Linked DNA regions of Homo sapiens. The protein of the gene in region 3 purifies or fractionates together with the protein of the main gene of each other region. This does not show direct contact. Each region holds a gene or a part of one and is shown on either strand. Other genes may lie near its edges.

The links. Proteins that work in one complex are often made in the same cells at the same time.
Region 1: the proteins of SNX4 (region 3) and NPEPPS purify together in Homo sapiens (affinity purification with mass spectrometry; one large-scale study listed by BioGRID and IntAct). This does not show direct contact.
Region 2: the proteins of SNX4 (region 3) and PPT1 purify together in Homo sapiens (co-immunoprecipitation; one large-scale study listed by IntAct). This does not show direct contact.
Region 4: the proteins of SNX4 (region 3) and WWC1 purify together in Homo sapiens (co-immunoprecipitation; one study listed by IntAct). This does not show direct contact.

What each region holds. Positions count from the first base shown.
Region 1 is NC_000017.11:47,618,108-47,620,941, reverse strand, and holds part of NPEPPS (puromycin-sensitive aminopeptidase), read right to left. Parts: intron 2,593-2,834; coding exon 2,485-2,592; intron 1,934-2,484; coding exon 1,778-1,933; intron 1,665-1,777; coding exon of another isoform or gene 1,570-1,664; intron 1,206-1,569; coding exon 1,158-1,205; intron 1-1,157. UniProt on the Homo sapiens protein: Aminopeptidase with broad substrate specificity for several peptides. Involved in proteolytic events essential for cell growth and viability. May act as regulator of neuropeptide activity.
Region 2 is NC_000001.11:40,080,253-40,083,752, forward strand, and holds part of PPT1 (palmitoyl-protein thioesterase 1 isoform 1 precursor), read right to left. Parts: intron 236-3,500; coding exon 145-235; intron 1-144. UniProt on the Homo sapiens protein: Has thioesterase activity against fatty acid thioesters with 14 -18 carbons, including palmitoyl-CoA, S-palmitoyl-N-acetylcysteamine, and palmitoylated proteins. In contrast to PPT2, PPT1 can hydrolyze palmitoylated proteins and palmitoylcysteine.
Region 3 is NC_000003.12:125,450,703-125,454,202, forward strand, and holds part of SNX4 (sorting nexin-4), read right to left. Parts: intron 3,254-3,500; coding exon 3,108-3,253; intron 718-3,107; coding exon 603-717; intron 1-602. UniProt on the Homo sapiens protein: Involved in the regulation of endocytosis and in several stages of intracellular trafficking. Plays a role in recycling endocytosed transferrin receptor and prevent its degradation.
Region 4 is NC_000005.10:168,294,645-168,298,144, reverse strand, and holds part of WWC1 (protein KIBRA), read right to left. Parts: exon of another isoform or gene 1,861-3,500; intron 1-1,860. UniProt on the Homo sapiens protein: Regulator of the Hippo signaling pathway, also known as the Salvador-Warts-Hippo (SWH) pathway.

The DNA.
Region 1 (2,834 bases), on a different chromosome or scaffold from region 3:
CAAAATGCTGGAATTACAGGAATCCAACATTTTTAATACAGTAAACCAAACAATTTCTAAGTTTACAATTTATCACAATGCTTAATGATTAAAAGTTGAATAAACTTTTCTAATGCAGTACACCTGGTTTCACAGAAAACAAAGCAACTCTTAAACACCAGCTGGCAAAATGATAGGGCTTTTCCTTTGAATTAGTCACCACAGGTGTGAAAGACAGAATGACTAATCCATCTGATTAAACATAGACCTTTTAGAAATCAATAACCTTATTTACACAGATGACAATTGCTACTGTTCCAAGGCTCCTAATCATGGTTCAGTTCTCAGGGCCTCAAGTCTTTTTCCATTCCATCGCAGAGTAGTACCAACATTTATACACCAGAAACCTGGGGATTATCCTGGCTTGTTTTTCTTCCTCTCCCAGATATGCTCACAACAGAGAAGCCAATCAATAAATATTGTTGAACTAAATGGTTAACAAATTCAAGCCCCTGAATCTCCATTATTCCATCTCCTCCACTACTGCCACTACCCTACTGTAAGCTATTCTATCATTCTTGCTAGGAGAGTTAGCTTCCCAACATCTTCTCTTCCCCATTCCAAACTATTATCCACATTGCAGCCAGACTGAAATTTTTATAACACAAATCAGATCAAGGCACTGCCTTGTTTATAAACCATTCGAAGGCTTTCCATTTTTAGGACTTTTTTTTTTTTTTTTTTTTTTGAGACAGGAGTCTCGCTCTGTCACCCAGGCTGGAGTGCAATGGCACGATCTCAGCTCACTGCAACCTCCACCTCCCGGGCTCAAGCAATTCTCCTGCCTCAGCCTCCCGAGTAGCTGGGATTAGAGGCGTGCACCACCATGTCCAGCTAATTTGGGGTTTCACCATGTTGCCCGGGCTGGTCTTGAAGTCCTGACCTCAGGTGATCCACCCACCTCGGCCTCCCAAAGTGCTGAGATTACAGATGTGAGCTACCATGCCTGGCCATTTTTAGGAAATTCTTAATATGGCCTATACAGCCCTGCATGATGTCTTTCTCTAAACAAAAACACAGAGATGCTACAGTACATTATCCCAACACTATAATTACAACCAGGTTATTGTTTTTACTTACTAGACTGAAAAGTGAAGAGTAAACAGTATTTTCCTTACCTTAACCTCTCCAGCCATTTTATCAACTGCAAATCCCTCAACTGATAGCTGCAAAACAATGGTTTTAAACAGTAAGTGAAACCAAGAGGCTGAGAACAAACTTCCATTTACCCTAAAAATAAATCATTCTGTTCTCTGCCAACTTCAGTCTGTTATAAAGGATGTGTGATGGGAGATGGAGAAGTCCTTAAATAAAGCCAGTAACTATTTAAGGAAACTTTTTTTTTTTTGAGACGGAGTTTCACACTTGTTGCCCAGGCTGGAGTGCAATGACCTCATCTCGGCTCACCACAACCTCTGCCTCCCAGGTTCAAGCGATTCTCCTGCCTCAGCCTCCCAAGTAGCTGGGATTACAGGCACACACCACCACGCTCAGCTAATTTTTGTATTTTTAGTAGGGACAGGATTTCACCATGTTGGCCAGGATAGTCTCGAACTCCCGACCTCAGGTGATCTGCCCACCTCGGCGTCCCAAAGTGCTGGTATTACAGGCGTGAGCCACTGCACCTGGCCACAGGAAACATTTAAAGAGCAAAGACCACAATGTATGGGTGTAGTGAATCATGGATGTCACTAAATAATATCCATGATTAGCAAGCTACTCAAAGTTTTTCACATACCTTTATTAGTCTGGATATTAAGAATCCTCCCTGGTATCGGTTATAAAGTTCTTCCCAGTTGTCCTTTATGAATTTCCAAGCAGCTTTCCTACCATGCTTGCTGCCTCCAGCTACTCCACCAATTACCGATACAGTGTCCTGTGGACGTACCTCTTCCTAAAAAAAGAAAGAGAGCTAAAAGTCTAGTGTATCAAAAACATATTCTGGTACCAGAAAGTGCACCATACTGTGACACTGAAGTAATCACACTGAAGACACTTATTCCTTGTTTTAGGAATAACTGGAACCAGAAGTTCTCAGCAAAGAAGATAATGTTTAAGCTAAAGATAACCAAAATGAGAATGAGGTACTGAGACAGGTTCAGACAGACAGACTGCTCAACAGATACTTGCTTAGGAGCCTATAGGTTTAAGAAAGGAAGAGACACAAAGTAAGCAAAGGCATAAGCCAGTTTCCCAGTTTTCAAGAGTCCCTGTCCTCATAGTTTCCATTCTGGAGAGACAATTTGTTTACTCTCCCAACTATTCTGATTCTCGCCACTAGTGGGAGAAAAACAGAAGTCAGTAACAAAAACTCAAGCCAGTTACTCTGGAAAAGGAAGCTTTAGTTAGGGTTAAGGCAGCTCAAGAGGATCAGAGCTGAATCAGAGACACTTCTCAGAGATGGGTAACGATTCACTTCTAAATGCAGTTTTCACCGTAACTTACTGAAAGTGCAAACGTGAGGACTTTTTGAATCAGGTCAGGCAAAAGAGTAGCGCCAAGGACTCTTTCGATTCGGTTTTTCTCTTCTTGCATATCTGCTTGTTTATGAAGCTACAGGAAAAAAGATAAAGATAGGAATAGTTAACTCTCCCTTGGATGTTCTGCATATGATTATATGAGCTTCTTCCCCAGTAAGGTAAAACTTAGGTTCTATATTCTCACTAGGTAAGAATGGCAGGGCATTATATTAAAGAAAGAGAATACTTTTCAAGATGCTTTGGGCCAGGTGCGGTGGTTCACACCTGTAATCCCAGCACTTTGGGAGGCCGAGGCGGGTGGATCACCTGAGGTCA
Region 2 (3,500 bases), on a different chromosome or scaffold from region 3:
GCCCTGCCTCCCAAAAAAAACAGAACTTCTCTTTCCTAGTGTCTGCCCAGGACAGTTTGGGTAAACAGTCACTGCTGATTTGTTTATGAAGACCTAAACAGGAAAAAGAACGCACATCTATGGGAGCCCGGTTTGGGTGCTTACCCGCTCCTGATTTATATCTGCCAAGAAGATGCTGTGGTTGCGATACACATCCTCCTTTATGGGGTCATGCCAGTATTCGGCTTGCACGAGGCTGTAGGAAAAAAAAAGAATGAGGTGATCAAGCTACAGGTCAGTCAGTACGCCCAGGGCATGCTCAGTGCAAAGGCCACCAAGAGACTTTAAAAGGACAAAAGGCCAGCCAGGCACAGTGGCTCACACCTGTAATCCCAGCACTTTGGGAGGCTGAGGCAGGTGGATCACGAGGTCAGGAGTTCAAGACCAGCCTAGCCAAGATGGTGAAACCCCGTCTCTACTAAAACTACAAAAATTAGCCAGGCGCGGCGGCAGGCGCCTGTAATCCTAGCTACTTGGGAGGCTGAGGCAGGAGAACTGCTAGAACCCCGGCGGCAGAGGTTGCAGTGAGCTGAGATCGCAGCACTGCACTTCAGCCTGTGCGACAGAGTGAGACTCTGTCTCAAAAAACAAGGACAAAAGGCCAAAGCCCTCAAGTCCCAGGCCTTACCCTTTAATACAGAAGACAAGACTTGCACCTAGGAAACAGTCTGTCAACAAGACACCTTGTTGAGACAGACTGTTCAGCATAGTACAGAAATTATAAAAGATTCAGGCAAAGGACTCATCAATATTTGCTTCTCCTGTGACACTGGGGTTTATCATACTTATCATGCTGATATGGTTTGGCTGTGTCCTCACCCAAATCTCATCTTGAATTGTAACTCCCACAATTCCCATATGTCATGGGAGGTGACTGAATTACAGGGGTGGGTCTTTCCTGTGCTGTTCTCGTGACAGTGAATAAGTCTCATGAGATCTGATGGTTTCAAAGAGGGGAGTTGGGCCAGATTCTGTGGCTCATGCTTATAATCCCAGCACTTTGGGAGGCCAAGGCGGGCAGATCGCCTGAGGTCAGGAGTTCGAAACCAACCTGGCCAACATGAGGAAACCCCGTCTCTACTAAAAATACAAAAATTAGCCAGGCACGGTGGCATGTGCCTGTAATCCCAGCTACTTGGGAGGCAGAGGGAGGGAGAATCGCTTGAACCTGGGAAGCTGAGGTTGCAGTGAGCCAAGATCACGCCATTGCACTCCAGCCTGGGAGACAGAGCGAGAATCCATCTCAAAAAATAAATAAATAAATAAATAAATAAATAGAAAATAAAATTAAGAGGGGAGTTTCCCTGCCCAAGCTCTCTTCTTTTGTCTACCGTCATGTGAGATGTGCCTTTCGCCTTCCGCCATGATTGTGAGGCTTCCCCAGCCACATGGAACTGTAAGTCCATTATAAACCTCTATTTGCCCAGTCTCGGGTATGTCTTTATCGGTAGCATGAAAACAGACTAATACAGTAAATAAGTACCAGTAGAGTGGGGTGCTGCTGAAAAGTTACCCAAAATGTGGAAGTGACTTTGGAACTGGGTAACAGGCAGAGGCTGGCACAGTTTGGAGGCCTCAGAAGAAGACAGGAAAATGTGGGAAAGCTTGGAACTTTCTAGAGACTTGTTGAATGGCTTTGACCAAAAGCCTGATAGTGATATAGACAATAAGGTCCAGGCTGAGGTAGTCTCAGATGGAGATGAGGAACTTGCTGGGAACTGGAGCAAAGGGGACTCTTTATACTTTCTTTCCAATCTCTCTCCACTTCCTCTTCCCTTCCAGCCCCCACCTCCTCAAAATGGGCACGGTTACCCCAAGGCCTCACATGGGGAAATTCGAACAAACTCTATCCCAGGTTGGCAGGGAGAGAAATCAAAATTTCTACAACATACGCTCCGTAGCCAGAGTGGAAGAGCTGCCCAGAGGCAGTGGTCCTGAAAACGCCACTCGGTGGAGCAGGCTGGCGCTAAAGCCCAACAGAGCCAGCTACGTCAGAGATGGAGCTCTCCCTCCCAGGAGCAGATGAGACTGAAGTTAAAGGAAGCAACAGTCAGAGTGACATTCTAGAATGTGTTTATACATGTATTTGAAACCTTTTAAAGGTTTAGAACTCTGAACATTTATAGAATGCAAAAAAAAAAAAGTTCCTGAGGAAAATTAGAAGTGTTATTTCAGTGAACACACAAATAATAAGGAAGCAAAACAGTCTTATTGCTGCTATGGAGAAAATCTGAGTGGTCTAGATAGAAGACCAAACCAGCCACAACATTCCCTTAAGCCAAAGCCTAATCCAGAGCAACGTCCTAACTCTCTTCAATTCAATGAAGGCTGAGAGAGGTGAGGAAGCTGCAGAAAAAAAGTGTGAAGCTAGCAGAGGTTGGTTTGTAAGGTTCAAGGAAAGAAACCATCTCCATAACACAGGAGTGCAAGATGGGGCAGCAAGTGCTGATGTAGAAGCTGCAGTAAGTTATCCAGGAGATCTAGCTAAGATACTTAATGAAGGTGGCGACCATAAACAACAAATTTTCAGTGTAGGTGAAACAGTCTTAAATTGGAAGAAGATGCCATCTAGGACTTTCACAGCTATAGAGGAGAAGTCAATGCCTGGCTTCAAAACTTCAAAGGACAGGCTGACTCTCTTGTGAGTGCCTCATGGAGCTGATGACTTGAAGCTGAAGCCAATGCTGGGTTACCATTTTTTAAATCCTAGGGCCCTTAAGAACTACGCTAAATTACTCTGCCTGTGCTCTACAAATGGAACACAAAGCCTGGATGACAGCAGATCTGTTTACAGTGTGGTTTGCTGACTATTTTAAGCCCACTGTTGAGACCTATTGCTCAGAAAAAAAGATTCCTTTCAAAACATTACCACGCAGCTGGGCATGGTGGCTCATACCTACAATGCCAGCACTTTGGGAGGCCAAGGTAGGAGGACCATTTGAGGCCAGGAGTTCAAGACTAGCTTGGGCAACATAGCAAGACCCCACCTCTAGAAAAGAAAATTCTTTTTAAAAGTAGCCGAGCATGGCGGTGCATGCCTGTAGTCCTAGCTACTCAGGAGGCTGAAGTGGGAGGATGGCTTGAGTCCAGGAGGTGAAGGCTGCAGTGAGCTGTGATCACACCACTGCACTCTAGTCTGGGCAAGAGAGCACAACCCTGTCTCAAAAACTATTTTTTTTAATTAAAAAAAGTTTAAAAACAAACTCAAAAAACAAACAAATATTACAGCTCATTAAAAAGCACCTGGTCACCCAAGCGCTCTGATGGAGATGTACAAAGAGATTAATGTTGTCTTCATGCCTGCCACAGCACATCCATTCTACAGCCCATGGATCAAGTAGTAATTTCAATTTTCAAGTCTTATTATTTAAGAAATACATTTACAAGGTTGTAGCTGCATAGACAGTGATCCCTTTGATGCATCTGGGCAAAGTAAACGGAAAACCTGATGGAAAGGATTT
Region 3 (3,500 bases):
AGCTTCAATGTTTGTATCTTTCACTATGGATATCAGCAACACAAATGATTTACTTTATGAGGAAGCATATCATAACCAGGTCTTCACGAAATAATGTTCAAGCTATTTTCCAATCAAAGCATATACCTGGAATGGTATTTTACTGTCTGGTCCAAGAGTACCATATGATCTAAATAATCTTGGTATATATTCTCAAATACAAGTTATAAATGGAGATACAAATTTGGACTTTAGATGAGTGGAGACTCAGTAATGGGCATACTGGTTGTAACACCAGTAGAGGCTGGACATGGTGGCTCGCACCTGTAATTGCAGCACTTTGGGAGGCCGAGGCAGGAGGACTATATGAGGCCAGGAGTTCGAGACCAGCCTGGGCAACATAGCGAGACCCCCCCATATCTATTTTTTAAATATTTAAAATTTTAAAATAAAAAAACCAAAACAAAATAAAACAGAAATCCTACAAAATTAAAATAGAGAAATTGGTAAACATTCTACAAGAGAAGAATAAAAATGAAAAATTTTTTGGTCAGGTAATTTAAATACATGTATAAGCACTTCTGAATATACATATATCTTCACTGAAACAGGAAAAACCCTACCTTTTTGCACATACTGATCTGCATGACTGCATAGCTTATGAGGGCCTCCTTTAAGTCTCGGTTCTTTTGTTCTTTGAAGCGTTCAATATCAGCCCATGCGTTTTTCACAAATTCTCTGAAATAAAAGGTATAGCCATTATTATTATTTAAGTTAAATAAACTGTGTACTAAAAAGTTAACCAGTTCTCATTGGCGTTGGTTTTTAATTGCCTATGTAGAAGGAAGAGTTATTGCTTGTATAAGACAGTTTTTTTATTTTCCTAAAAATTATAGTTAGGGAAAAAGCAAACAGACAGTCATATATTCTTGTACCTTTTAATCTACTTTTTCTTTTTTTTTTGAGACAGAGTCTCACTCTGTTGCCCAGGCTGGAGTGTAGTGGCGTGATCTTGGCTCACTGCAGCCTCTGCATTCCGGGTTTGAGCAATTCTCCTGCCTTAGCCTCCTGAGTAGCTGGGATTACAGGCACACGCCACTACGCCCAACTAATTTTTGTATTTTTAGTAGAGACAGGGTTTCACCATGTTGGCCAGGCTGGGCTTGAACACCTGAGCTCAGGTGATCTGCCCACCTCAGCCTCCCAAACTGCTGGGATTACAGCGTGAGCCGCTGCACCTGGCCTAATAATCTAAGTTTTTGCCACAAGGATTCTACCTTTAAATTATTCCTATAAAATACACATAGATGACTCCTTAAGCCAGCTCACAAACCTAACAGGTGTCAGTCACAATGAAGTAAGTGCCTTCCAGGGGTCACTGGAAAATATACACTCTTTTGACAAGATGGATTATGAATCACGTTTAGCATTTTTTTTTTTTTGAGACCAAGTCTCGCTCTGTAGCCCAGGCTGGAGTGCAGAGGCGTGATCTTGGCTCACCACAACCTCCACATCCAGGGTTCTTGCCTCAGTCTCCAGAGTAGCTGGGATTACAGGCACACGCCACTGCACTCGGCTAATTTTTTGTATTTTTAGTAGAGACAAGGTTTCACCATGTTGGCCAGGCTGGTCTTGAACTTCCGACCTCAGGCAATCCACTCTCCTAGGCCTCCCAAAGTGCTAGGATTACAGGTGTGAGCCACCACGGCCAGCTGCATGTACTTGTTTTAAATCACAACCAAAGTTTAAAAACTTTTTTAGCCAGGCTTGGTAGCCGGTAGTCCCAGTGATTCGGGAGGCTGAGATGGGAGGATCACTTGAGCCCTGGACTTTGAGGTGGCAGCGAGCAACAATGGCACCACTGCACTCCGGCCTGGGCAGCAGGGTGAGACTCCGTCTCAAAAAAATGAAAAATAATAATAAAAATTAAAATCCCGAGAGGTATTTGTTTTTGGAGACAGAGTTTCACTCTGTCGCCCAGGCTAGAGTGCAGTGGCGTGATCTCCGCTCACTGCAAGCTCCACCTCCCAGGTTCACACCATTCTCCTGCCTCAGCCTCCCGAGTAGCTGGGACTGTAGGCGCCTGCCACCGCGCTCGGCTAATTTTTTTGGTTTTTAGTAGAGACAGGGTTTCAGCATGTTAGCCAGGATGGTCTCAAACTCCTGACCTCATGATCCACCCACCTCAGCCTCCCAAAGTGCTGGGATTACAGGCATGAGCTACCGCGCCCGGCCTGTCTTTTTTAATTCTATCTATTACTTTGCCATATTTGGTGCTAGTAGTTCTAAAAATGAACAAAACCACCTCAAAACCCAAAATACACTCTTGGTCTGCCTTGGTCTATTCACTGACTGTCAGATGAAAACAAAAATAAGAAAAATGAGTCAAACAGTGATAGTGGGTCTCTGAGAACTGAATTTCTAGAAATACTTATGTAACAATTACATGCTAAGCCCTATGTAAGGCACTGGGATGTGAATGTGGAAAAGATACAATCACTGACTTTGAAGGGCTTAAATTTAGCCAGGGATAGTCACACAGAACAATCAATCATCTAATACAAAACTGCCATACCATACTGGCATGAATTAAATGCCGTGATAGCCTGAGAAGGCTTCACAATGAAGTAACACTTCAGCTGGGTACTGAAGGAGGGGAGGGGAGAAGAAATGGTGGAGGGAAAGTACAAAGGGTAGAAATCAGGAATAGTGCAGGAAAATAATATTATGAAGTTGAAACTTTTATTTCTCTTTCCCCCACATTGAAACAACTGTTTCTATAACATTATTTTTGATAATTCAACTTTCTTTTATTTTTATTTATTTATTTATTTATTTATTTATTTCTGTAGAGACAGGGTCTTCCTACGTTGCCCAGGCTGGTCTCAAACTCCCAGGCTCAAGCAATCCTCCCACCTCAGCCTCCTAAAGTGTCAGGATTACAGGCGTGAGCCACCACACCCAGCGTGATAACTCAAATTTCTTAGGAATGCATTTTAAAGGAATAGGCTGTATTCAGGGATGCCAATGAAGCTGGGAATTGTTACCAAAATAAATAAATAAATAAATAAAATAATCTACCATATAGTCTACAAGCCTAGCTTACTTAAACATCGCAGCATCTTTACCTGCCTTCCAGATTTTTAGACTTTAGCTGTTGTTCTCCTTCATTTATTTGTTCTTCTAGCACCTTTATTCTGGCTTCTCTCTGCTCTGGAGTTTCTTGACCAAAGAGCTTGGTAGTCATTCCCTTCAAAGAGAATGTTCTCACAGTCTAAAAGGAAACAGAAACAGATGAATGGATAAACAAAATGCGGCATACACATACACATACAATGGAACATTATTCAGCCTTTAAAAGGAATCAAATCTGATATATGCTACAACATGGATAAACCTGCAGGACATTATGCTAAGTGAAATAAGACAGATACAAAAAGACAAATACTGTATGATTCCACTTATATGAGACACCAGTGTTTACACTGTATTAGGTATTAATAATCTAGAGATAATTTAAA
Region 4 (3,500 bases), on a different chromosome or scaffold from region 3:
ATTGCTTGAACCCGGGAAGTAGAGGTTGCAATGAGCTGAGATTGCACCACCGCACTCCAACCTGGGTGACTGAGCAAGACTCAGTCTCAAAATAAAATAAAATAAAATAAAACAAAGCTTGTTGGAATATGACATTAGACTGACAATAACTCTAAATCCATTTTAATTGATTATAAAAATAGGAATTCACTTGCAATCACTGGAAATGTAATCATTTGACATACAGCAAATTCCTATGACACAACTCACAAATGATTGTGACGCACGATGAATGCAACTTCCTGGTCTATACAATCAAAAACGATTATGGAGAATAATGCAGCCATGCACATAAAATATGTGTGAATTATTATCATTGATGAGAAGGACATAGATCTGACTTTTAGTAAAAAATTTATATAAGAGAAAGAGAAAAAAGAAACTTTTACTAGACTCGAGGTTGGCATTTATTTTCTGTGTGACCTTGGGCAAGTCACTTGTCTCTGGTTCTCAATTTCTTTTTTTTTTTTTTTTTTTTTGAGATGGAGTTTCGCTCTTGTTGCCCAGGATGGAGTGCAATGGCGCGATCTTGGCTCACCACAACCTCCACCTCCCGGATTCAAGCGATTCTCCTGCCTCAGCCTCCCGAGTAGCCGGGATTACAGGCATGCACCGCCATGCCTGGCTAATTTTGTACTTTTAGTAGAGATGGGGTTTCTCCATATTGGTCAGGCTGGTCTCGAACTCCTGACCTCAGGTGATCTGCCCGCCTCAGCCTCCCAAAGTGCTGGGATTATAGGCATGAGCCACCGCACCAGGCTGGTTCTCAATTTCATCAGTGAAATGAGAGGCCTGGATTTCACGAACAGAAAGGTCCACTCCAGCTGCAAAATTGGGTAGATATGCAGCATCCATTTGATGCTGCTGTTTCACAGGTACGTTCTAGGAAAAGTTAAAGGAACTGGCATTCCTCAGTGTCCCCTGCATGTCAGACTTCAGGCTTGCTGCCCTACCTACCTTCACTTACTTATCACCCATAACTACCCTTGATGGTTGATGGACATCTTTCCATTCATTAGAAGGCAAACGCAAGGTTCAGGGACAATATGTCAATTACCAAGGTAACTCAGGTAGCAAGTGGCAGATCCAAGATTCCAGGAGCCAAAGACTCACTTATCTACATTTGCCCTCTAGGTGCCCATGACCTGACCACACCAGAATGGTCACAGGTAAGTGAAATCATGCCTGTTTTGGCTCCATTTCCCAAGGCCAAATTCCTTAGGCACTGGAGCAGTGGTCTTGATTCTGCAGCTAACTCAGCAGGAAGTAAAATGAGGCAGTGGTTAGAAATGTGTGTTCTGGTGTGAGCCCGCCTAGTATTCACATCACAGCTCCACAAAGGTTGAGGGGCTTTACCAAGCCTCCCTGAGCATTGGGTAGTTCAGGTGGGTAATAATTGTACCTAGTCCCAGGGTTGTTAGGAGGATTTAAAGAGATAACCTATGTAAAGCTCTCAGCAGACTGCCTGAATATAGTAAATACCCAATCATTATTTGCTACCTAGCTAAACAGGAGGCCTTTCCATGGTGACAAGCAATTTCCAAGCTTATCTATGGCAGGGGTTATGAACCTGGGGTCCAGGAGGTCCCTGAAATTATGTGCAAAAACCTTTTCTCTAGGAAGAGTTCTGAACCTTTATCAGTCTCATAAGGGTCTGTGACCTGACAGAGGTTTAGACTTTTTGACTGCTGTAGACCTGACTTCCTACCATATCAATTATTTCTGAAATAACAGGGTTAGCAAAAGATCCTCAAGTCATGGGAGAAGTTGCTGGATCCTCTCAGCATGGCCTCTCCAGCCATGTGTGCCTCCGGTACTTACCATACAGACCCAGAAACTGCCCAGAATTCCCAGGTGGTTCCTATGAGAAGGTCTGAATACAAATCGCACAACAAGAAGGAATCAGGCTGCAGGAACCTTCTCTGGGAGGGCCAGCCCCAAAGATCTATTCTTCCTCCGAGAACAATCGGTGCATTTGTTTTGCATACCACGAAGTGAAATACACAGGACGCTGGCCCCTTCGCTAGAGCTCACAAAAGCACCCAGAGTTACTCCGCAAAAGGAGCACGGCTCCAAGGTGCTGTTCAGACCTGATCCACAGCACCTGATTCCCGAAGGGCCTGTCACCTTCCCAGGCTGGCCTTGACTCAGGAAAAGCCTGTGGTGCTGCTGGAGCCTTTGGCCCAGTGGGCAGGACCCAAGCTGCCCACTGGACCCTCTCCGGTTGTTGGGACAACCATCCTCAGGAATTTCGGCCTCCCAGTCTTCCCCTGGGTGAGAAGGGGAGAGAGTTGGCAAGGCTGGCTGCTTGGCTGCTCTTCCAACCCCCTGGTGAAAGGGGAAGCTGAAAACTGGATTCCCTACCCCCAGCAGCTCCTGGCCGGCCAGCACACAAAACAGCTCAGCCCCAGAGGGAGGAATGTGCCAAGACATTCTTTAGGGTTGGTAACCAGAGACGCTATTTTGTCCTTGGTGGCTAAGAAATCACTTTTCTGACTGAAGGACCATTTGACTTACTTCTTTTAAATTCAGGGGAATGGGTGGGCATCTCCATGATTCAGGTAAGGAAAAATCCAAGGCAAATAAACACACACACACACACACACACACACACACACACACGGAGTAGAAATTTTTAGTGCAATTTTTTGTCTCACAGCATTAATTAATTGCAGGGATATAACTACCTTGGCAGAATTTTTTCTCCCCAACCCACCACCCCCCGGAATAAGTTTGGCTCTTTTCAGCTTTGTTAAATTTCTTCTTCCTTTTTCTCATAGCCCATCCCTGTTCCCCCTTCTCCTCTCATGGAGTCTGGAGAGGTAAGAGCGGCAGAAGGGTTTGAAATAATATTTAAGAGCTGGCAGGCCCTTGAAGACCATCTAACCAACCCACTTCTCAAGCACTCAAACCTCAGAGAGGTCAAGTGATTTGCCCAAGGCCACACAGACAGAACTAAAAGGCAAAAATGGGGTATGCCGGAGGGAAATTCCAGAAAACCACAAGTGGCTATCCTCCAATTAGCACTTTTCCAAAACATACAAAGCTGGACCACAATAGTGACCCCCAGAGTTGACATGAGACCCCCTCAGGACCCCAAGTTCAGGGGCCCAATACCACCCCAGTCCAGGTGGGATGACAAGGAGGTACAGAGATGAAGTTTATAAACCAGTGACCCAAGGCCAAGCGTGGTGGCTCACGCCTGTAATCCTAGCACTTTGGGAGGCTGAGGTGGGCGGATTGCCTGAGCTCAGGAGTTCAAGACTAGCCTGGGCAACACAGTGAAACCCCATCTCTACTAAAATACAAAAAATTGGCTGGATGTGGTGGCGTGCACCTGTAGTCCCAGCTACTCGGGAGGTTGAGGCAGGAGAATCGCTTGAACCCAGGAGGCAGACTTGCAGTGAGCCAAGATCGCACCACTGGACTCCAGCCTGGGCGACAGAGCGAGACTCTGTCTC